Regions from separate parts of the Homo sapiens genome. Here all the other regions are linked to region 3. The links come from fine-mapping of genetic effects on gene expression. Tissue or cell type: prefrontal cortex. Region 3 holds a variant in brackets; each other region holds the start of a gene. All regions are shown on one strand. Distances are between the middles of the regions.

Region 1 (8,098 bases), 98 kb after region 3:
AGTATAAACAAAGTTATATGTATTACTGGATGCTAATTAGAAACACTCCCCAAGCCTGGGGCCTGACATGTCTGTGAAGAGTGAACTGCAGGCTGCCTGTGCTCTCTCCTTGGTTACTTAGGCCCACACACAGACTGAAAAGTGTTGTTTGATGATGCATCTGAGGACCAGCTGAACTTGTGTGCCTCCTCAGTGGCGCATGCCCCGCCCAGACAGTGGGAAAACTGAGCTGCTCCCTCTTACTGATCGCCACCAGAAGCCCTCCCCAGCAAAGACGTGAGGCCTGGCAGGCAGGGACTGATGCGTGGCTGCATGGCAGCAGGCTGAGAGAAGGAACCAATGCTTTTAGACTCAAAACTTTAATCAGAGAACCAACAAATATGCACACACGGAGGGCGTTTCTACCTTGGCCTGCAGCAACACAGGTGACTGATTTACAGACTGCCCCCACACCCAATGGCTGCCAGTTTTCCATAGAGTCCCTATTGTGTCACAGCCCTGCAACACTTTGTACACTCTTTTGGTATACAACATGCCCATCTCCCCGACAAGACAGAGCTCCAGAGGACGGGAACCATGTGCGAGAAGTTAAATGTTGCAACCATTTGAAAAACAGTGTAAGGCCCCAATGGTTAGCCAACAGGTTCCCAGTTTCAACTAAGTTTAACAAACTTAACCAGCAGAACTCCAGGTGCAAGAGTTGAAAAGCCCAAGGGTGCAGAGCACTCACTCCCTCACCATTTTCAGCACCTAAAATATGAAAGGTATTCAAAGTATGTGTCCAGTGCTTTTCATAAGACTACTGTGTTTCAGCAAAGGTGTGACTGAGCCACTTAGTGGCAGGGAACAAACACCCAGAGCTGACAAGACACTGGTAGGGAACTGGTTGTGTGGTTCCATCTCACTGGACTCTCCAACAATCCTTGGTGATCCCAGAACTTCCTGTGACATGAGGGAATGTGGCATTTTCAAGATGTCACTTGTCAACTAACAGCAATCGTCGATGAAAATGGGTTCATTTCTGATTCCAGAAGCTTCAGAGCAGTAGTGCATAGTGTATGGATACTACCCGCCCCCGAGCCTAGCAAATTGCCTGGTGAGCGGCCATCCTGGATAAATGGTGAATGATGACATCCCAGTGGTCACTTCCACACACCACAGGTTTGACCCCTAAGTATGTCTTCCATATGGGTTGTTTCATATGCGGTTAACACCCTGATCAATGCAGCTTTCCTGATGGAATCCAGCTGTGTTTTGGTGTCAACTCCCATGAAAAATTGGGTGTCTTATTGCATAACCAACACTGTTAAATGGAGGAAGGTCATAGGAAGAGGGAGCATGTGTTTGTGGGATAGGGAGTCCTCTTTAAGTGAGAAGCTTGGGAGGTTAGGAGTGGAAGGTTGTAGCTAGTTGAGGTGAAGAGTTTACATGTTCTTTTTGGCTTTCTGGGGCTTAAGAAAAAAACCAGGAGAGATAAAGGGACAAAAAAGGCCAGGCACTTAAGAAGAGTAAAGTGCTGGAGAAAAACTGTAAAAAAGGAAAACTTAAATTAAAAGCGATACATTGTAAGAACATTAACTACAGTAAACACAGATTACTAATTCCTTTCTTGTAACACAAGTATATTTGTGCTATAGCTGATGTGTATTTGTGGCTTACACTTGGTGAGCCCTCATGTGCTGGCCATCAGTTCTAAGTGCTTCACATTTATTTATTTAATCCTCAGAAAAGCCCTCTGAGGTAGGTGATGCCCATTTTACAGATAAGGACACCGAGGCCCTGAGAGATTTTTCTGACCTTCCCAAGGTCACTTAGGTAGTAGATGGCAGAGGTGGGATTTAACTCAAGGTAGACTGGCTCCAGAGCCTACCTCTGAATCCTGACGTTGTACAGCTTCTCCACTTTTGTGTTTTCATTGTTATAATGAAAAACATGCGCACAAACTTTCTAATCAATCTTTAGATGCATTTATTTGGAGAGAAACTTGCAATGGGATAGTTTCCAACTTTCAACATCCGAGTAACGGTCTCATATTCTGGGACTCTGCTGCCACCCAATGGCTACAGGCAGTATTGCTGCTTGTTGTGTACACGCTGATGGCGGCTGAGGCTCGAGTGGCACCGAAAGGCTTTCTGGCAACGTTGACACTGATAAAGTGTCTCCTGGGTGTGAACTCTCAGGTGCTGGTTGAGATGGGCACTGAGGACAAAAGCTTTGCCACACACATTACAGGAGTAAGGCTTCTCCCCTGTGTGAATTCTCTGGTGCTGTGTTAGATTTGCTTTCTGGGCAAAGGCTTTCCCACATTCACCACATCTGTAGGGCTTCTCCCCAGTGTGAACTCTCCGGTGAATAGAAAGGCATGAGCTCTGGGTGAAGGCTTTCCCGCATTCCTGACAAACATAAGGCTTTTCTCCAGTGTGAATTCTCTGGTGGCGGACAAGCTCAGCACTCAGGCCGAAGGCCTTCCCGCAGTAATCACATACATAGGGCTTCTCACCTGAGTGAATTCTCTGATGCTTAGAAAGGCATGAGCTCTGACGGAACGTTTTCCCGCATTCGTTACACACCAACGGCTTCTTTCTGGCATGAGTTCGCTCATGCTGAACAAGGTAGTTTCTCTGGGTGAAGACTCTGTCACACTTACTACATTTAAAGGGATTCTCTCCAGCGTGAATTAACTGATGTTTTGAGAGGTGTGCACTGTGGCTGAAGGTCTTTCCGCATTCGTTACATTTAAAAGGGTGCTCCTTTGTGTGGAAGGACTGAAGTTTGATAAGGGAGGCACTGCTGATGGCTTTCCCTTGCTCACCCCATTTATACAGCCTCACTCTAGAGTGGATTCTTTGATGGTGAATGAGCCGAGTACTTTGGCCAAAGGCTTTCCCACACTGGTCACATTCAAAGGGCTTCACTCCCCTGGTGTGAATCCTCTCGTGCTGAGTTAGGTATTTGCTGCAGCTAAAGGTTTTCTCACATTTGTTACACTTAAAGCACTTCTCTTTCTGTTCTGGGTTCTGATCCAAGATCTTCCCACTCACAAAAAATCCTTGTTTTTCTCTGGCGTGAACACTCTCGTGGCACTTCAGGGTTGAGCCGCAAATGAAGCGTTCTCCGCACTCCTGACATTCATATGGGGTTTTGACAGTGTGCATTTTCTGGTGTTGCACAAGGCGATTGTTATCGCTGAAAGTCTCCTTGCATTCAGCACAGCTATAGGGCTTTTCTGCGGTGTGAATGGCCTGATGTCGCATCAGATGTGAGGGCCGGCTGAAACTCCTGACGCATTCCTGACATTTGTGGGGTCTGTAGCCTGTATGAATTCGCCGATGTTCATTAAGGTGAGTGTGCCGGTGGAAGGCCTTCCCACACTCACTGCATTTGTAAGGCTTCTCTCCACTGTGAACCCTCTGATGGATCTTTAGGGTAGAGTTATGCCTGAAGGATTTCCCACGTTCGTTACACTTATAAGGCTCCTCTCCAGCATGAAGAGCCTGGTGTTCAATGAGCAGCGAACTGTGCCTAAAAATCTTCCCACACTCCTGACACTCAGAGGTAGTTTTTGCAGCGTGAGTTTTCTGATGTTGGATGAGGTGTTTTCTCAAGTTGAAGGTCGCCTGGCACTTGGAACACTCATAGCGTTTCCGAGTGTGGATCTTCTGGTGCCGAGTAAGGTGGAAGATCCGGGTAAAAGCCTTGCCGCATTCGTTACAGTTGTAGGACTTACTATCTGTGTGAGTTTTCTGATGCTCACCAGGCTGTGTGTCATGACTGGGTGGGTGGTCACTATCTTGACTCTTACATGGTTTTTCTCCAGTGTGAGTTTTCTGATGCCACAGGTATGTACTCTGACTAAAAGTTGTCCCATATTCATTACACACATAGAATTTGTAGCCCGTGTGAGTTTTCGGATACACAGAAAGGGAAGCATTCCGGTCAAAACCTTGCTCACACTCTTGATGGACAGTGGGTTTCTCCCTAGTATGAGTGATCCAGTGCTGGGTAAGACGGTAACTCCCACTGAAGCTTTTCCCACATTCACTACATTGATATGGTTTCTCCCCTTCCTGAACAGAATCCTGCTGGCTGTGGTCGGAGTAGGAGAAAAACTCACCCCTATATTCCTTAGACTTAGCTGGTGTGAGGGTCTTTTCAGAAACATTATGCACCATGGAATCTTCTCCCGTGGAAACGGTGGACACAGGACTGAGTCCTCTCTTTAATTCATGACTCTTGCATTCCGTGGGACTTTCCCCGTTGGTGGCAATATCAGACCTCAGAAGACTTTCTGGATCGCCTAGCAAACTATCTAACCAGGTGTCCTCTATACAGGCTTCTCCGAAATTGGAGTTCCAGAAGCCATCCTTGGATAACATCTCTATAATCTCCTGGGAGAATCCTTCTTCGAAGAAATCCTCCATCAGAGGAGAGTTCTTGGTCTCAGTCACATCTGAAAGAGCAAGTGCAAATGTCTCCTGTTCACTAAGGGTGAGAACACAGACAAGAGCAAGTAGGGGTGATAGATCTTGAGTCCAGCCTATCCATCAAGGGACCCAAAGGGGTGACCCATGTGGAACTGGCATCACAGAAAACAGACAGAGCCCATTCCCAGGAGGGTCAAGAAGGGAGTTGGGAAACCATAGGGTTCAACGAGGAGGGAGATTCTACCATTACCTTCACACCTAAGTGACTGACCAAGTTCCCTAAAAAATCGCCTGGACTCACCTGCTTCTACTCTCCACTCTATCCTGTACTGTCACCAAAATCTTCCTCCTCATATCCTGCATCCTCTATCCCAGACAACACCCCGCTCTCCCCACACCACCATCCATCCAGTTCTCCATGCTAGAATCCTGGGAGTCAACCTCCTCCCTACCTCCCTCAACTTGGCACTATTTTCATTTGGTCTCTATCGAAATGTCTCAACTCCCTTCCTCTCCTCTCTTTATCACTGACTCAGCATCTGACCCCAGGCTGCTCATTGGTCTCCTGTTTGTCTGTCTCTCTCTCTCTCTAGTCTTCCACACTAGCCCTAAAGGGCTTTGTAGTTAATGGATCTGACTATATCACTCCTCTGATTAAACCCTTCCATGGCTTCCTGCCTGGAGAAAAGAAATGAGTGTATTAGCCCAGTGTTCTTTGTGCTGACCTCATAGAACTCTTGCGGTTCCCTAAATCCACCAGACTTTCTCCTCTGTGCCTTTAATGGTCCCTCATGCTGGATGGCACTTCCTGGACTAACTCCTCTAAGTCTTTTAATACCCAGCTTATCACCCTTCTCTGAAAGGCTTCCCTGACAACCCCATCCCCATTCTGCTTTAAGTCCCCTGCCCTGTATTCTCTGAAAACCAGCTGAGCACTGACCATCCTCTACCATAACAGGTTATGAAAGGGTCTGACCCCTGACCCTTACCAGAAGGTAAGTTCTTTAATGGGGACCTTCCACTGCTCATCCATCCACTGCCACAGAGGCGGCCACGAGAAAGATTCACAGGACAGAGTAATTCCCATTCATGGTATGCTTGTTCACAGGCAGGAGTGCCTCAGGCACTCTGTTACACTCGACAACCTCCTGTAAGGTAGGCACGTTTCTGCTTTCTTACAGGTAAGTGAGCAGAAGACTGAGGATTTGAACCCCTCTGACTATATATATATATATATATATATATATTTTTTTTTTTTTTTTTGGAGACTGAGTCTTGCCCTGTTGCCCAGGCTGAAGTGCTGCACGATCTCAGCTCAACGCAACCTCTGCCTCCTGGGTTCAAGTGATTCTCCTGCCTCAGCCTCCCGAGTAGCTGGGACTGCAGGTGCCCTCCACCACGCCCAGCTAATTTTTGTATTTTTAGTAGAGACAGAGTTTCAGCATGTTGGCCAGGCTGGTCTCGAACTCCTGACCTCAAGTGACCGGCCTGCCTCGCCCTCCCAAAGTGCTGGGATTACAGGTATGAGCCACCACGCCTGGCCCCCATATTCTTAACTACCAAGCTGTATGCTCTCTGGGATCCTTCACAAAACATGAATGTCACTGCTCTGCTGTATGCCTCCAGTCTCCCCATCTCTCCTCTCCTCCATCATCATACCTTTTCCAGCCTGTCCCTTGTGCAGTTCTTGGCTCACCATCTGAGTATCTATGAGACTGCTTAAAGTCTCTCTGCCTGGAATTAAAACTTGCAAATGAAAGCCTTCTGAAACCACATCTTGTTCTGAATTGTCACCTTTGCCTCTGCTCATCTCTCCCACAGATATCCAGCTCACTCTCCTCACCACACTTGTGCTCATGTTGTTCCCTCGGCCTCAAATGCACCAACAGACATGTAATAGGCACCCCTTATATGCCAAGCATGATGTCAGGAGCTGGGAATACAGGGTGAATCAGCTAAGCCCTGCTTCCAAGAGCGGCATGCTGTTAAAGGGGAAAGACGCTTATGTGGTAACTATGCAACTCAAGTGTCACTACTAGAGGATATGGAGGTATATTTGTTAGTAAAGGCATGGCTACCTATGTTTGGAAACAGCCAATATGCTGAGGTGACAGAAACAGAAAGCAGAAGTTGTGAGAGCCTGTGCATGAGTTAGTCACCTATGAGGAACACTGATGTGCTGAAGAGGAGGCTGCAGAGGCCTCATGTACACGAGCCTGAGCGTGGTGAGCCAAGAAGGGAGCTGCAGACTGACTGGATGGGGTACAGCCTGAGATTCCTGTGGTCTCTGGTTCAGGGCCCTGCTTCTCATGCTGGGGACGTCTCTACCATGGGTAATACCCCAGGAATCCTCACCACCTAACCTGATCCACCTGGAGGAACCCCGGCTTGGGAGATGGCAGGGCAGATGCTCTTGGCAGCATTCAGGCCTGGGCTTAAGTTACTCCCTGATGTGGCCATCTGCTATGCCCCAGGGATAGGAAGGAAAAATGGGCCTGAAGGAAAGGAGGTAAAAGAAGTAGAATGAGGGTCAACACACTCAGGGAGCACAAGGCAGGAAAGTAGAGAGACCAACTGAGAGAGTGGAGGGCGTACCCTTGTTGAGTCTGGAAGGAAAGAGGAGGAGCTGTGGAGAGGCACCAGGATAACCCTGTGCTGAAGGGCAAGGTAGAGAGACCCCAGAGTGAGGGTCTATAAAAATGTCCTGATCCCCCCAGCTCCCAGGACAAGGGGATGGAAGCCAGCGAGAAGCAGAGTGAAGTCCTGAAGCTGAGCGTTGTAATGTCTCGGTAGACCTGTGGGAAAGCTGGCTGCAGCCTCAGGATGGAGGTCTGGAAGACAGAAGGTACACAAGGGGCCCCTCTCCATCCACTCACCAGGGCTTGTTGCTTCTGGGCTTCCTCCTGCCAGAGGCTCCAGATCTTCACTGCCATCTGGGTGGGAGGTCAGGTTGGGTCTTGGGGGGTCTGCAGGGAGAGAAAAGCATTGTCACCCAACCAGGACATGGAGGACCATCCAGACACTCAGTGAGAACCTCCTGGCTCTCCTGACTTTTCTATGCTTTATCCTGCACGTGGCTCCTGTGTGTGGACGAGGTGCTGCACTGGGCGACTCTGGGGATGCCTGTCCTGTAGGGTTCCCAGTCCAGTGATGGAGAGGGAGCCAAACAATCACAATCCAGGGTGATCAAAGCTGTGACAGCTGGGGCTGGGGATACAAAGGACTTGTGACAGCTCTTTAATGGGCAGGATCTGCCAGGTGGAGAGGCACGTACTTCCTTAGCCATTCATGATTTATTCACTGACCCATGGGCCACACATTGCCTGAGGCCTCCATGGGCCAGGGACAGAAAATGTCAGGGTCCCAGAGCCCAAGCAGTCCTGAGCCATACCCTCCACAAGCTTCCCCAAGGAAGGGAACAGAGTCACCATCCAGGAGGGATACAGGCCACAGCGGAGAAAACGCCACTGCTGTCTTTGAAGACTGAGAAGCCATGAGTCAAGCAATACAGGTGACCTCCAGAAGCTGGCAACGGGCCAGGAAGGACTATCTACGTGCTGGAGCCTCCAGAAGGAACATGGTGGCCCTGCCAACACCTCGCCTCCAGCCCAGCCACATGCATTTGGAACTCCTGGCCTCCAGGACTGTAACATAATAAAAGTGTGCTGGTGGAA
Region 2 (8,098 bases), 120 kb after region 3:
ACGAGGTCAGGAGATCCAGACCATCCTGGCTAACGCGGTGAAACCCCGTCTCTACTAAAAATACAATAACAAAATTAGCCAGGCATGGTGGTGGGCGCCTGTAGTCCCAGTTACTCAGGAGGCTGAGGCGAGAGAATGGTGTGAACCCGGGAGGTGGAGCTTGCAGTGAGCCGAGATGGCGCCATGCACTCCAGCCTGGGCGACAGAGCGAGACTCCGTCTCAAAAACAAAAACAAAAACAAAACAAAACAAAGTCCCAGCGCAGTGTGGATCAGGCTGCATTTCATAATTGAACACTTTACCCTAGAGAAAAGTATCATCGTTCATTCTAGGTAGAATAATTTAAAGTTATATTTAAAAAATACCCTGTAGTAGTTCAGGTAAGGCACGGACACTAAATTTATGAAAAAAAATTTGTTGTTCTGAGTTGTCCAGATTTTTGAGACTACAAATATGGGAATATGGTAGACCTACAATAAATGCTAATTCTACTGAACAATGAGTTTTTCTACATGTCAGAGGTTAAGCCTCAACCTACGAGTATAACTCAGTTGACAGATATTTGGCCCATAATGTTTGTTGGCAGACAGAATGTTTTGAAAGAAAATTCAAGCATGGCTCACTAGTCTCAAACTTGAAAATTGGGAAATTTCACCTAAAAATTATGTTTCCAACTTCTGAAACATCCTAGGATTTGGCAACATTGGGTCTACATCCCACGAAGTTAGTTCACTGGTGCCCATTTAAAGCTCCCCCACCAGTGCTAGGCAAGTGGGGGATGCTTATAATCCCAGCACTTTGGGAGGCTGAAAGGTGTTCGAGACCAGCCTGGGCAACGTAACAAGACCTTGTTTCTAAAAAAAAAAAATTAAAAATGAGCAAGTTGTGGTGGCACGTGCCTGTAGTCCCAACTACTTGGGAGACTGAGGTAGGAGGATCGCTTGGGAGGCTGAGGTAGGAGGATCACTTGAGCCCAGGAGTTCAAGGCTGCAGTGAGCTATGATTGTGTCACTGTACTCCAGCCTGAATGACAGAGAAAGATCCTGCCTCCAAAAAAAAATTAAATTTGTTTTTTTTTTTTTTTTTGAGACGGAGTCTCGTTCTGTCGCCCAGGCTGGAGTGCAGTGGCGCGATCTCAGCTCGCTGCAAGCTCTGCCTCCCGGGCTCATGCCATTCTCCTGCCTCAGCCTCCTGAGTAGCTGGGACTACAAGCGCCTGCCACCACGCCCGGAGAATTTTTTGTATTTTTAGTAGAGACGGAGTTTCACCGTGTTAGCCAGGATGGTCTCGATCTCCTGACCTCGTGATCCACCCACCTCGGCCTTCCAAAGTGCTGGGATTACAGGCATGAGCCACCACACCCGGCCAAAAAAATTAAATTTAAGTTTAAAAAGCGGCTGGGTGCAGTGGCTCATGCCTGCCATCCCAGCACTTTGGGAGGCCAAGGCAGGCGGATCACCTGAAGTTTGGAGTCCAAGACCAGCCTGATCAACATGGTGAAACCCCCGTATCTACCAAAAATACAGAAATTAGCCAGGCATGGTGGTGCACGCCTGTAATTCCAGCTGCTTGGGAGGCTGAGGCAGGAGAATCGCTTCAACCGGGGAGGTGGAGGTTCCAGTGAGACCGAACTCCAGCCTGGGTGACAGAGCGAGACTCTGTCATCAAAAAAAAAACACAATTCTCCCCTTCAGATGAGGCAAGTGCTCCCCAAGGCCCCGCAGCCTCACCTGGACCAGTTCTCTTCTTTCCTGTATGTCATCTGCCTGGCCCTCACAGACAGCTGAGCTTGAGATCCCTGTCTGCAGTTACCAAATCACATTCTGCCCACATCTCATATACTCTCAGCTCTGGGAGGAAAGAAACGAGGGCCCAGAGGTGGAGCCCAAGGTCATCCAGCCCAGAGTGACTTAAGCCAAACAATTATCAGGCTGAGAGACCTTGGGCCCAAGAGTCTTGCCCTTCCTTCCAGACCATTTACCTTCTCTAAGCCTTAGTTTCCACATGTACCAAATGGAACAAATACAACAGATCTATGGTCCTTTAAATGCTCCAAAAACCAGAACTTGATTTATAAACTGACCGCAAAACTTCACCTGGATTGCCACAGGCCATGTAGGGTCTTAATGTTCTCATAAGTGTGAATATTCACACCTTGCCCCACAGAAACATTTTATGACCAAAAACTGGCCCAGATTCCTCGGGGTGTGGGGGGGTGCTGCCTAATTATAAAATATGCACCCTATTAGCTTTCTAAAATCTGAAAAATTCTGATTCCCGAGATTGCCTTGGTGCCAAGGGGACCTGCACTTATGTCTCAGTGCTGCTGCGGGGATCAGAAGAGGAAATGCAACTCCAGCAGGGCGCCTGGCACACAGAAAGCACTCAAATACTGTAAATGTTAAGTACTTCAACTTCCCGAAGAACTCCCATCCATCGTCCAGCAAGATTCTGCCTAAATTTGCCAACTTCAGGTAACTCATTCCCCTCCTTCCCCAACCAAAACCAAAATAAAACAGAACCACTCCTCTCAGGGCCATCAGGGAGGCCTGGAAACCCCTTTAGCAGTTTTCTTTTCTTTTCTTTTCTTTCTCAGCTCACTGCAACCTCTGCCTCCTGGGTTCAAGCAATCCTCCCACCTCGGCCTCCCAATTAGCTAGGAATACAGGGGCGCACCACCACGCCCGGCTAATTTTTCTATTTTTTTCTTCTTTTGTGGAGACAGGGCTTCACCATCTGGCCCAGGCTAGCCTCGAAATCCTGGGCTCAAGCGATCCGCCCACCTCAGCCTCCCAAGGTGGTTTTCTTCCTTTCTTTTTTTTTTTTTTTTTTTAAGATGTAGTCTCGCTCTGTCACCCAGGCTGGAGTGCAATGGCGCGATCTCGGCTCACTGCAACCTCCAGCTCCTGGGTTCAAGCGATTCTCCTGCCTCAGCCTCCTGAGTAGCTGGGATTACAGGCCCCCGCCACCACGCTCAACTAATTTTTGTATTTTTAGTAGAGACTGGGGGTTCGAGGAACTCCTGGCTGTAAGTGATCCCCCCCGCCAAGGCTTCCCAAAGTGCTGGGATTACAGGCGTGATCTACCGTGCCCAGACCTTGAGCGGTTTTCATAACAGACTGTGAAAGACGGTTCACACCTTCACCCTGACAACCGCCGCCCAAGGCGACGCACCCTTTGCCGAAGTCGCCCCCACTTGCATTCCGTCACCTCTCAGGAAGGACCGAGCCCGCAAGTCCCTCAGCCCCAGCGTCTCCGTACCTCGGGATTGTAGTCGGCCGCGTCAACAGACGCAACCCCAGCCTCAAGGGAGCGGGAGATTCAACTCCCCGCACACGCGCCTCCTCGCAGCGACTTCCTGTGCGCGAGAAGCTTCTCTGAGCGGCTGCACCCAGGATCCTCCGCGGCAGCGCCAGGACTCTATTTCCCAGAGGGCTGTGCGGGCGACTTCTTTCGCCTTCCCATCTCCTCCTGCTTCTTCAGCCTTAGCACTGTGGGAGTAGAGTAGAAAGAGAATCAGGACCAGGCGGCATCAGTTTGTAGTCCAGATTTTTACCTTGTTAAAGAATCATCTAATTAGCTTCTTGCCTTTACTAGAAGTCAGGGAGTGTTAACCTTTTCCGAAGAGCAAGCGGTAGGTTGCCATGGAAACGCGTTGTGACGGGTTTCTGAGAAAACAAGCGGAAGTAAGGGGCGGAGTTGAGGCAGAAGTTTAGGTAATGTGACCTCTGATTGGTGGAGAGGTACCTCACGGTGCATTCCGATTGGTCTGACACTGACACATGCGCAGTAGAACCAGAAGGCGTTCCAAAGCGGCTAGAACGGAGGGGAGGGGGATGAGCAATGAGGGAATAATCCCCATTCCGTCTGGAATCAGAGGGCGGGCCTGCCGCGGAGGCATCTGGGAAACGGAGTTCCCAGGCAGGCGAAGCCCAGGGGCCGTCAGGAAGTCAGCGGCGCCTGCGCGGGCGCCTCAGATTCAGGATGCGCGCGCAGCGCTCTCCGCCCAGCGGAAGTTTTCGCTGGGCAACTGAGAAGGTGAGTCCGGGTAACTGCGGAGGATCCGAGGGTCAGGCTGCAGAAGCCCAGAATCCCACCCCAGTCCCCAAGTACAGAGGTGAGGGGAAGCGAGGCGAACGAGGGGACGTCCCCCGACCCCCTAGCCGCAGCTCGGCCGGGGCGTCCGTGACGTCAGCACGACCGTTTGTGGGAGGCGGAGGCCCCTGCTGTCGGGGTTCGGAATGAGAGCGGCTCCGGGTCGCGGGGTTCACTGGCCTCCTCTTGAGCTTCCCAAGCCACCTTGGGCTCCGTGTTGGGCATGGCTAAGGCGGAGATGGGCGGAACTTGTGGGAAGTTCGACAGCTCCTCCGCTGTGAAACTTGGCGTCTAAGTCATCCCGTGGTTTCTATGGAGGTGCGGCCGAAGGGAGGCTCTGTCGTCGCCTAGGCAATCGCCCCACCTGCGCTGAGGTGGGGTCTGACTTTTAGCCTTTTTGCTGTGCTGTTTCCTGAACTTTCTAGGAGGAACACTATACAGTAGTTGACGCATAGCAGCTGTTCCCTAAACATTTGTTGAATAAGTCAAATAAATTAAGATAAAGACTGGCCTGAGGGTTGGAGTCTTAGGGTTTCAAGTCCTGACCTGGCCATTGCATAGGTGACTTCAGCACATCCAATTTTATTGAGCGTTTACTATATGGAAGGCTCCGTGCAACCGATATTACACTACTATAACCTGGGTTTGAACGGTGCTAGTCTAATAGGCACTGTTCAAGCCCAGGTTATTATAGCAGTGTCTAAAACAAAAATCCTGCCCAGCTAATTCACATTCTCAGGGTGGTTGGGGATGCCAGACACTAAAAAAGAAATGTTAAAGAATATTTACAGGTCTGCAGTCCCTTATCTATAACTTTAAAATCCAAAACGTTCTGAAAACTGAAAGGTCTTTTTCTCTGTTTTGCAACTTACTTGGCAGGCCAACCTCACCTGGCTTTGAACTTGTTTGCTGGCAATACCCACTCTGAACTGATGTGTGACTATTTAGAATTTTTAAAGATTTTGTTGTGCAAATCATATACTTATGGAGAGTTGCCCCTGGATCTCGCCGGTGTTGTAATATGTAATAGGTTCTAAAATCCAAAAAATTTGGCTGGGCACGGTGGCTCCCGCCTGTAGTCCCAGCACTTTAGGAGACCGAGGTGGGCGGATCACCTGGGTTCAGGAGTTCGAGACCAGCCTGGCCAACATGGTGAAACCCCATCTCTACTAAAAATAAAAAAATTAGCCGGGCATGGTGGCATGCGCCTGTAATCCCAGCTACTCGGGAGGTTGAGGCAGGGAGAATCGCTTGAACCCAGGAAGCGGAGGTTGCAAGTGAGCTGAGGTCGTGCCACTGCTCTCCAACCTGGGTGACATAGCAAAACTCTGTCCATCATGCAATACATGGCAGAAGCAAGATCCAAACCCAGGCAGATTATTTCCCAAGTTTATCCTCTTAACCCCTGTACTGATCTGCTTCTAAGTGGCACGTCTTTTTTAGGGACCATCCAGCTAGATAATTCCGGCCCTGAGCTTTGAGTCTCTGGCTGGATGTCTAGATTTGCCTGAGAGATGAATGTGTACTGACACAGCTGGGGACCCCCCCCACCCACCTTCTTGGCACATTTTCTTTTGCAAAGGAGACAATGATTTATTCACTCAGCAGACGTAGACCCAGCATTTGCTCTGTGCCAGGCCTGTTTGAGGCTCTGGGCACACTGTGGCAAACAAGGCAGGGAAAAGTCCCCGCCATCATGAAGCTTACATTCTAGTAAGTCAGAGTATGTCAGGTAGTGACAAGCACTGTGAAGAAAAATAAAGCAAGGTAAGGAGGATAAAACATGCTATTAGTAAAATGGTGTCCAGGGCCAGGCACGGTGGCTCGAGCCTGTAATCCCAGGACTTTGGGAGGCTGAGGGGGATCACCTGAGGTCAGGAGTTTAAGACCAGCCTGGCCAACATGGTGAAACCCCATCTCTACTAAAAATATAAAATTAGCCAGGCGTGGTGACACGCATCTGTAATCCCAACTACATGGGAGGCTGAGGCAGGAGAATCACTTGAACTCGGGAGGCAGAGTTTGCAGTAAGCCGAGATCGTGCCATTGCACTCCAGCCTGGGCGAAAAGAGCCAAACTCCATCTCAAAAAAAAGAAAAGAAAAAACACAGTAAAATCGTGTCCAAGAAGGTCTCTGAGAAGGTGACATTTGAACAGAGAGCTAAAGAATGTGATGAGGAAGTTAACTGTGTGCACTCTTAGGGGGACAGCGTTCCAGGCAGATGGGAGAGCAGGTGCAAAGGTCTTGGGGAAGAAACGTTCTTGTCACGATTGGGGAAAAGCACCGAAGCTGTTGTGGCTGACTCAGCGTGAGCAAGGGGAGAGGTGGGAGAGGTCAGAGAGGGAACAGGGAAGTGGCAGATCATACAGGGGGCTCCTGGGCCATGGTAGGAATTTCAGCATTTATTCTGTCTAAAATGAAATCCACCATACGGTTTTGAGTAGAGGAGGGACAGGGTCTGACTTACATTTTATTTATTTATTTGTTTATTTATGAGACTGAGTCTTGCTCTGTTGCCCAGGCTGGAGTGCAGCGGTGCAATCTTGGCTCATTGCAACCTCTGCCTCCCAGGTTCAAGCGACTCTTGCGCCTCAGCCTCCCAAGTAGCTGGGATTACGGGTGCCCACCACCACGCCCGGCTGATTTTTTTTTTTGTACTTTTTTAGTAGAGACGGGGTTTCACCATGTTGTCCAGGCTGGTCTGGAACTCCTAACCTCACGTGATCCGCCCACCTCGGCCTCCCAAAGTGCTGGGATCACAGGCGTGAGCCACCGTGTCCGACCCACCATATGGGCCAGGGCAGGGACACAGACAGGGTCTGACTTAGATTTTAAGTGGATCCGTCAAGCTACTGGGTTGAAAATAGATTGTAGGGACAAGCGTAGAAGCCGAAAGTCTAGTTAGGAGGCTGCTGCAGTAGCACAAGGGAGAGATGGTGGCCTAGACCAGGCTGGTGACGGTGTCAGAACCGGGGGTGGCACATGGTTAAAAGACTCTCTTGCCGTGGTTCCACACCCAACATCAGCTTCCAGATTTAAATCTACAAGAATGTTCTGACCTGCTGCCCCAAGAACCCAGTCCGGTTTTGCGTTTTCGTTGTATAAATTGGCACCAGGTGAAGAACATGGGCTTTTGGGTTCTGGATTTCAGCTGCGTCCCCACTGTTTTCTAGGTGAGTGGAGTCAGGTCTGGGGGAAGGAGAATTGTCACCCTTTGAGCATCATTTTGTAGGTTTCAAAGATGGGATAATCATCCCTACCTCATAGAGTGGAGGGAAAGATTAAACAAAATCATGTGTCTGGCTCGCCGCTTAAGAGGTTTGTGGCCCTGGGCAAGTCATTTGCTCTCTGAGCCTCTGCTTCTCATCTCCCCAAAGGGGAAATCATTCTTACCTTGAAAAGGGTGATTGGGAAGGTTCTGTAGATAATACCTGCCGAGAACTTAGCACAGTGGTCTGCACATACTGAACTGTCATGAAATGAGAACCGTCTTAAGTGAGTGACTTGACCTCTCTGTGCAGCAGGGACTCCCTGTCCCGGTTACTATGTCTAGAGAACAAATCGTCCCACAATTCACTGGTGTAGAACCACCATTTCTTGTGCCCATGGATCCTATGGGCCAGGAATTCAGAGTGAGCACAGTGAGGTGGCCTGTTTCTGCTCCCCAGTGCCTGTGCCTTAGCAGGAAGACTTGAAGGCTGGGGTTTAAGTGGTCTGAGGACTTGCCCACTCACCCAGCAGCTGATGGTGGCTGTTGGCCAGGGGCCTCAGTTCCTCTCCACCTGAGCCTCTCCATGTGGTTTCTCTGCCTGGGCTACTTTAGGCTGCCTCATGCCGTGGAAACTGGCTTCCATGGGTGAGCATCCTGAGCGAGCCAGCCAGGTGCAAGTTGTTTTTTATGACCCAGCCTGGGAAGTCTCATGGCCTTACTGCTGCCGGTCCTCTATTGGTAGGAGCAGTCACAGCTCTGCCGAGATCCAAAGGGGGAGGAACAGAGACCCT
Region 3 (8,102 bases):
TCCCTGGTCTGGGCGCGGTGGCTCACACCTGTAATCCCAGCACTTTGGGAGGCCGAGGGGGGCGGATAACCCCAGGTCAGGAGTTCGAGACCAGCCTGGCCAACATGGTGAAACCCCATCTCTACTAAAAATACAAAAAAATTAGCCTGGTGTGGTGGCACACACCTGTAATCCCAGCTACTTGGGAGGCTGAGGCAGGAGAATCGCTTGAAGCTGGGAGGTGGAGGTTGCAGTGAGCCGAGATCACGCCACTGCACTCCAGCCTAGGTGGCAGAGCGAGACTCCATCTCAAATAATAATAATAATAATAATAATACAAAAATCAGCTGGGCGTGGTGGCGGGCTCCTGTAACCCCAGCTACTCAGGAAGCTGAGGCCTGAGAATCACTTGAAACCCGGGAGGTGGAAGTTTCAGTGAACCAAGATCGCCTCACTGCACTCCAGCCTGGGTGACAGAGCAAGACTCTGTCTCAAAAATAAAATAAGGCCAGGTGTGGTGGCTCACGCCTGTAATCCCAGCACTTTGGGAGGCTGAGGCGGGTGGATCACCTGAGGTCAGGAGTTCGAGACCAGTCTGGCCAACATGGTGAAACCCCATCTCTACTAAAAATACAAAAAATTAGCCAGGTGTCATGGTGGATACCTGTAATCCCAGCTATTCGGGAGGCTGAGGCAGGAGAATTGTGTGAACCCAGGAAGTGGAGGTTGCAGTGAGCTGAGATTGAGTCACTGCACTCCAGCCTGGGCAACAAGAGCGAAACCCTGTCTCCAAATTAATAAATTAATTATTTAAATAAGATAAAAAAGTTACCCTGTTCTTTTTGTAATTAACAAGTGATTCATGGGGATAAAGTTAAGACTCTCTTCCTCATTTTCTCATCAAAACCTCGTGCACTAGGCCAGGTGTGGTGGCTCACACCTGTAATCCCAGCAATTTGGGAGGCTGAAGCAGGTGAATCATGAGGTCAGGAGATTGAGACCATCCTGGCTAACATGGTGAAACCCTGTCTCTCCTAAAAAAAAAAAAAATTAGCCAGGAGTGATGGCAGGTTCCTGTAGTCCCAGCTACTCAGGAGGCTGAGGCAGGAGAATGGTGTGAACCTGGGAGGTGGAGCTTGCAGTAAGCCGAGATCACGCCATTGCACTCCAGCCTGGGCAACAGATAGAGACTCTGTCTCAAAAAAAAAAAACACCTCATGCACTAGTTTCAGCATTCAGGTGTGTGTGTTCTGTGTAGCCGGGGATGTGTATGGCTTCTCGCCTGGGAAATGTGTGTGAGGTGCTGCATCTTTTCATTCTGTGGACTGTATTAGTTTCCCATGGTGCTGTAACAAATTGCCACACACTTAAAATGACACAATTTTATTATATTACAATCCTGGAGGCCAGAAGTTGGAAGCGGGATTCAAAGGGATCAAGGGGTCAGCACGGCCATGCTCCCTCCAGAGGCTCCAGGGATGGATCTGTTTCGCTGCCTCGTTGCCAGTTTCCAGGGGCCTGCTTTCCTTGGCTTGTAGCCCTTTCCTCTGTCATCAAAGCCAGCAGTGTAGCGTCCTCTCTCTCAGCCTCTGCTGCTCTCTGCTTCTGGTGCATGGCCTTCTTCTGCCCTGTGTCAGACTCTCCTCTGCCCCCTCTTATAAGGACACTTGTGAAGGCATTTAGTGCCCGCCCAGATAATCCAGGATAATTCCCCCCATCTAAAGATCCTTCACTTAATCCCTTCCGCAAAGTCTCTTTTCCATATAAGATAAGATCTGTAGGTTCCAGGGATATCTCTGGGGGCTGTTATACAGCCTGTCTACCCCACCAGGCAGGAAGTCCCAGTTTATGGAATAAAGTTTTAAGAATCTTTGCCAAGGCTGGGTGTGGTGGCTCATGCCTGTAATCCCAGCACTTTGGGAGGCCGAGGTGGGAGGATTGCTTGAGCCCAGGAGTACGCGACCAGCCTGGGCAACATAGAGAGACCCTGTCTGTATTATTAAAAAATAATAAATTATATAAATAAATAAGAACCCCTGGCCCAGGCACAGTGGCTCAGGCCTAAAATCCCAGCAATTTTGGAGCCCGAGGTGGGTAGATCACCTGAGGTCAGGAGTTCGAGACCAGCCTTGCCAACATGGTGAAACCCCATCTCTACTAAAAATGTAAATATTAGCCAGGCATGGTGGCAGGTGCTTGTAATCCCAGCTATTCAGGAAGCTGAGGCAAGAGAATTGCTTGATCCTGGGAGGCGGAGGTTGCAGTGAGCCGAGATGGCGCCACTGCACTCCAGCCAGCCTGGGACACTGAGTGAGAATCCATCTAAAAAAAAAAAAAACAATATATATATATATATATATAAAAGATAGGGGTGGCCCTGTGGCTAGACTTCTCTGAAACTTTTTGTCTCCATGAACTTGAGCAAGTCTTGACCTCTTGTGCCTCAATGTCCTCATCTAGGGGTAACCATCGTTCCCACGTCCGAGAGCTGTTGTGTCGGGGAGGTGAGACAGCCTCATGGTTGCTGGCTGTTGTCACTGGTATGGAATGGGGGCCTCAGGTGGCCTGTCCTGGGACTTTGCTTTGACTCTTAGGGGACCATGGCCCCTTCCGTGACCAGGAGTCTTGGGGAAAGCATCTGTCTGTCAGGGTCACAAATGACCCTTTTTCTGCTGTGGTCTCCTCCTCCAGCTCTTCGGGCCCTGGCGTGAACCCTTCTCCCAGAGGCACATGCCCAGAACCCAGCAATGGCCAATGGGACCTTGATGGCCGAGGGCCAGGTGAGTCTGGGCTTCCTCTTCCCCAGGATAACTTTGTGGACTCCAGTGGGCCCTCTTCATCCCTGTGCATGATCTCAAGGTCTCCTGACTCTTCCAATACTGGGAAAGGGGGTATGAGGAGAGGGGAGCCGGGCAGTGCCCAGGGGCAGGAGGCAGAGGCAGAATGCTCTGAGCTGGGACCATGTCGCGCAGTCTAAACATTTTTCATCGAACACTGCAGCCTTTCAGTTACCAGGCAAAGTGGGCAATGGATGGTTTTGCTTCATCCCTGAGCCTCATCTCTGGAGTCAGGAATGGGGGTGAGGATCAGGGATGGGGTCTGGGATAGAATGGGACTTGCGAATATCTCCTGCACAAAACGGCTTGACGGATTTTTCTTTAAGTGTTTCTTAGGCTGAGCGCGGTGGCTCATGCCTGTAATCCCAGCACTTTGGGAGGCTGAGGCAGGCGGATCACGAGGTCAGATCGAGACCATCCTGGCTAATACGTTGAAACCCCGTCTCTACTAAAAATACAAAAAATTAGCCGGGCGTGGTGGCGGGCGCCTGTGGTCCCAGCTACTCGGGAGGCTGAGGCAGGAGAATGGCGTGAACCCGGGAGGTGGAGCTTGCAGTGAGCCGAGATTGCGCCACTGCACTCCAGCCTGGGGGATAGAGCGAGACTCCATCTCAAAAAAAAAGCATTTTTTAGGGCTGTCACTTAGAGCTGTGCAGGTTATGCACTGCACAAGTGTGCCTCATCCCAGGCAGGACTCCCACCTTATACCTCATACATTGGTGGCAGTTTGCAGGCAGTTTGATAAACTGTCATATACTAAATTAATTGGTATATTACAATGACTTCCCAACAGATGGCAGTAAAGAGTCATGTGAAAGGGCTCCTTGTTCTACTTTCTACCAAGGTGCCTATGGGCGAGTTTCTGCCTTAGATAGGTTCCCATAGGCCAGTTGGATTCAGGCATCCCAATTCTGCACAATCAGAATGTTCCAGCCCAGGGGGCTGTTGTGGGCTCTTGACCCCTGACACTTCTGCCCCCAAGTTCCAGAAGGACGTGCCACTCCACAGAATGAAACTGGCCCTTGCAGGAATCAGTGACCTTCAAGGATGTGGCGGTGGACTTCACCCTGGAGGAGTGGGGCTGGCTGGAGCCTGGCCAGAGGGAGCTGTATTCACCCAGTACCAAATGTAAATGTGTGCCCCAAATGCAGCAATCAAGATAAAAGAATATTTAATGCAATATTGGCCAGGCGCGGTGGTTCACGCCTGTAATCCCAGCACTTTGGGAGCCCAAGGTGGGTGGATCACTTGAGGTCGGAAGTTTGAGACCAGCCTGGCCAACATGGCGAAACCCTGTCTCTACAAAAAAAATAAAAATAAAAAATAAAATTAGGGTGAGGTGGCACACGCCTGTAGTTCCAGCTACTTGGGAGGCTGAAGCAGGAGAATCACTTGAACTCAGGGAGACTCTGCACTCCAGCCTGGGTGACAGAGTGACAATAATAACAATAACAATAATAATGCAACATTTTTTAAAAATCAAAATCAATGCAAAAAAAATCAATGATGAACAAAATATCAAATTTTTTAAAAAGGCCAGTCTCATGCCACATCAGACTGCTATTTCAAAGGAAATGTATGTGCCCCCATATACTTGCTTTTTTTTTTTTTAAGGAGAGGGGTTCTTGCTCCATTGCCCAGGCTGGAGTGTGGTGGTGAGATCATAGCTCACTGCAGTAACAAACTCCTGGGCTCAAGGGATCCTCCTGCCTCAGCCTCCTGAGTAGCTGGGACTACAAGCACACACTACCATGCCTAGCTAATTCCTAAATTATTTTTGTAGAGACAGGCTCTCCCCATGTTGCTCAGGCTAGTCTTAAACTCCCAGGCTCAAGTGATCCACCCACCTTGGCCTCCCAAAGGCCTGTGCTGGGATTACAGGCATGAGCCACTGTGCCCTGCGCAAGTTTTTATATATTTTTTCTAAATTTATTTTTCCTGGAATGCTAAACTAGTTGAAAAATACTGAAAAATGAAGTAAATGTGTTGAAATTCACAACATTATTTTACATTTAAATCTTTCATATATACCCTAGACAGAATTTGAATAATTTGACTTTCTTGGCTTTTAATGGAGGCAAATCTGTCATTAACACTTT[C/T]TTTTTTTTTTTTAATCATTCTTGGGTGTTTCTCGCAGAGGGGGATTTGGCAGGGTCATAGGACAATAGTGGAGGGAAGGTCAGCAGATAAACAAGTGAACAAAGGTCTCTGGTTTTCCTAGGCAGAGGACCCTGTGGCCTTCCGCAGTGTTTGTGTCCCTGGGAACTTGCGATTAGGGAGTGGTGATGACTCTTAAGGAGCATGCTGCCTTCAAGCATCTGTTTAACAAAGCACATCTTGCTCCGCCCTTAATCCATTTAACCCTGAGTGGACACAGCACATGTTTGAGAGAGCACACGGTTGGGGGTAAGGTCACAGATCAACAGGATCCCAAGGCAGAAGAATTTTTCTTAGTACAGAACAAAATGAAAAGTCTCCCATGTCTACTTCTTTCTACACAGACACGGCAACCATGCGATTTCTTAATCTTTTCCCCACCTTTCCCCCCTTTCTATTCCACAAAACCGCCATTGTCATCATGGCCCGTTCTCAATGAGCTGTTGGGTACACCTCCCAGACGGGGTGGTGGCCGGGCAGAGGGGCCCCTCACTTCCCAGTAGGGGCGGCCAGGCAGAGGCGCCCCTCACCTCCCGGACGGGGCGGCTGGACGGGCAGGGGGCTGACCCCCCCACCTCCCTCCCGGACGGGGCGGCTGGCCGGGCGGGGGGCTGACCACCCCCCCCCCACCTCCCTCCCGGACGGGGTGGCTGCCGGGCGGAGACGCTCCTCACTTCCCAGATGGGGTGGCTGCCGGGCGGAGGGGCTCCTCACTTCTCAGACGGGGCGGCTGCCGGGCAGAGGGGCTCCTCACTTCTCAGACGGGGCGGCTGGGCAGAGACGCTCCTCACCTCCCAGACAGGGTCGCGGCCGGGCAGAGGCGCTCCTCACTTCCTAGATGGGATGGCGGCCGGGCAGAGACGCTCCTCACTTTCCAGACTGGGCAGCCAGGCAGAGGGATTCCTCACATCCCAGACGATGGGCGGCCAGGCAGAGACGCTCCTCACTTCCCAGACGGGGTGGCGGCCGGGCAGAGGCTGCAATCTCGGCACTTTGGGAGGCCAAGGCAGGCGGCTGGGAGGTGGAGGTTGTAGCGAGCCGAGATCACGCCACTGCACTCCAGCCTGGGCACCATTGAGCACTGAGTGAACGAGACTCCATCTGCAATCCCCGCACCTGGGGAGGCCGAGGCTGGCGGATCACTCGCAGTTAGGAGCTGGAGACCAGCCCGGCCAACACAGCGAAACCCCGTCTCCACCAAAAAAATACGAAAACCAGTCAGGTGTGGCGGCGTGTGCCTGCAATGGCAGGCACTCGGCAGGCTGAGGCACGAGAATCAGGCAGGGAGGATGCAGTGAGATGGCAGCAGTACAGTGCAGCTTCGGCTGGGCATCAGACGGAGACCGTGGAAAGAGAGGGAGAGGGAGACCATGTGGAGAGGGAGACGGGAGACGGGAGACAGGAGAGGGAGAGGGAGAGGGAGACCGTGGGGAGAGGGAGACGGGAGACAGGAGACGAGAGGGAGAAAGGGAAGAAAGGACAGCCCCGACACCCGGAGCCACTGTGGCTCCGGCTGGATGCGCCTGCCCTCGGGCCCTCAGGGAGGCAGGGGTTCGAGGGTACGAGTTCAAGGCCAACCTGGTCCACATGGGTTGAAAAAAAAATTTTTTTATCGTTCCCAATATAACAACAAAACATAAAGGGAGGACGCCTTGATAGGAAGAAATGACATCTTCCTATGTGTTTTTAAATTACTTCAATGTATCTTTTTTTTTTTTTTGGGAGACCGAGGCTTGCTCTGTTTCTTGATTTCCAAGACGTCGTATGGTAAAAAATAACATAAAATCTTGCAAAAATGTTTATATTATGTTAAAATTATGATGTTTTAGGTATATTAGGTTAAATCAGCTATTTTATCAAAATGAATCTCACCTGTTTGTTTTTGCTTTTTTTTTTTTTTTTTTTTGAGATGGAGTCTCGCTCTGTCGCCCAGGCTAGAGTACAATGGTGTGGTCTCAGCTCACTGCATCACTGCAACCTCTACCTCCCAGGTTCAAGCCATTCTCCTACCTCACCCTCCCAAGTGGCTGGGATTACAGGAGTGTGCCACCACACCCAGCTAATTTTTGTATTTTTAGTAGAGACAGGGTTTCACCATGTTGGCCAGGCTGGTCTCGAACTGCTGACCTCGTGATCTGCCTGCCTCGGCCTCCCAAAGTGCTGGGATTACAGGTGTGGGCCACTGTGCCGGCCATGTTTCTCGACTTCTGCTGGCAAGCATGTTCCAGTATTTGCATGGCTCCTAGCCCTCATCTCCATTTCTCTGCACAGATGTTACCTTCCCCATGAGGTCTGCCTTATACATGAGGCCTGTATTATAAAGTGCAACTGCCAATTCGCCAACCCCGTTGTTTCTTCTCTCCAGAACACTAGGCACCATCTGATCTACTATGCCTTTTCCTTATTGTCAGATACTGAACTCTCAGCTACAGTTCCCCTTCCTCCCTCCAGGGGGCGCCATGGAACGCAGGGCCCTCACTGGCCCTGGGGACTGGGTGACGACAGGGGGGAGCCTCTGGTGATTGGCTCCCTCACCCTGCGTAAGATCAAAGGGCCTACAGGACAGCCCCGACACCCGGAGCCATTGTGGCTCCGGCCGGTTGCGCGGGCCCTCGGACCCTCAGGGTAGGCGAGGGTTCGAGGGCACGAGTTCGAGGCCAACCTGGTCCACATGGGTTGAAAAAAAAATTTTTTTATCGTTCCCAATATAACAACAAAACAGAAAGGGAGGACGCCTTGATAGGAAGAAATGACATCTTCCTAAGTGTTTTTAAATTACTTCAATGTATCTTTCTTTTTTTTTTTTTTTTGGGAGACCGAGGCTTGCTCTGTTGCCCAGGCTGGAGTGCAGTGGTGTGATCTTGGCTCACTGCAACCTCTGCCTCGTCGGTTCAAGGGAGTCTCCTATCTCAGCCTCCTGAGTAGCTGGGATTACAGTCGCCTGCCAAGAGATGGGGTTTCGCCATGTTGACCAGGCTGGTCTTGAACACCTGGCCTCAAATGATCCACTCGCCTTGGTCTCCCAAAGTGGTAGGATGACAGGCGTGAGCCACCGCGCCCAGCCTCTTCTATTCTTTTAGAGACAGGGTCTCACTCTGTTGCCCAGGCTGGAGTGCATTGATGTGATGT

Direction of the effects. Alleles are on the strand shown, and positions count from the first base shown. SD is a standard deviation of normalised expression in the study named.
For the expression in prefrontal cortex of the gene that starts at base 4,431 in region 1, allele C in region 3 goes with a lower level than allele T (large effect, 2.0 SD a copy in BrainSeq).
In carriers of allele C in region 3, the expression in prefrontal cortex of the gene that starts at base 3,379 in region 2 tends to be lower than with T alone (large effect, 1.5 SD a copy in BrainSeq).

What was found. PIP is the estimated chance that this variant, and not a neighbour inherited with it, causes the effect.
Region 1: ZNF473-AS1 starts here. The variant in region 3 is fine-mapped to the expression of ZNF473-AS1 in prefrontal cortex (BrainSeq, PIP 0.95).
Region 2: it holds the start of ZNF473, and the variant in region 3 is fine-mapped to the expression of ZNF473 in prefrontal cortex (BrainSeq, PIP 0.95).

What each region holds. Positions count from the first base shown.
Region 1 is chr19:50,041,022-50,049,119 of GRCh38, reverse strand. ZNF473-AS1 (ZNF473 antisense RNA 1) reads left to right here and starts at 4,431. Exons shown (of 2, transcript XR_007067295.1): 1 at 4,431-4,488; 2 at 6,246-8,098. It overlaps ZNF473 (zinc finger protein 473), which reads right to left. Exons shown (of 5, transcript NM_015428.4): 4 at 7,301-7,390; 5 at 344-4,450. The coding sequence ends at 2,061.
Region 2 is chr19:50,021,286-50,029,383 of GRCh38, reverse strand. ZNF473 (zinc finger protein 473) reads right to left here and starts at 3,379. Exons shown (of 5, transcript NM_015428.4): 1 at 3,262-3,379. VRK3 (VRK serine/threonine kinase 3) reads left to right here and starts at 4,012. Exons shown (of 15, transcript NM_016440.4): 1 at 4,012-4,117. RefSeq lists enhancers at 3,226-3,275, 3,686-3,735, 4,076-4,155, 4,205-4,706.
Region 3 is chr19:50,138,684-50,146,785 of GRCh38, reverse strand. It overlaps SNAR-B2 (small NF90 (ILF3) associated RNA B2), which reads left to right and starts at 7,549; the gene lies at 7,549-7,668. SNAR-D (small NF90 (ILF3) associated RNA D) reads left to right here and starts at 6,466; the gene lies at 6,466-6,584. It overlaps LOC105372436 (a long non-coding RNA gene), which reads left to right. Exons shown (of 3, transcript XR_936021.4): 2 at 2,671-2,759. The variant C/T (reference allele first, on the strand shown) is at 4,916.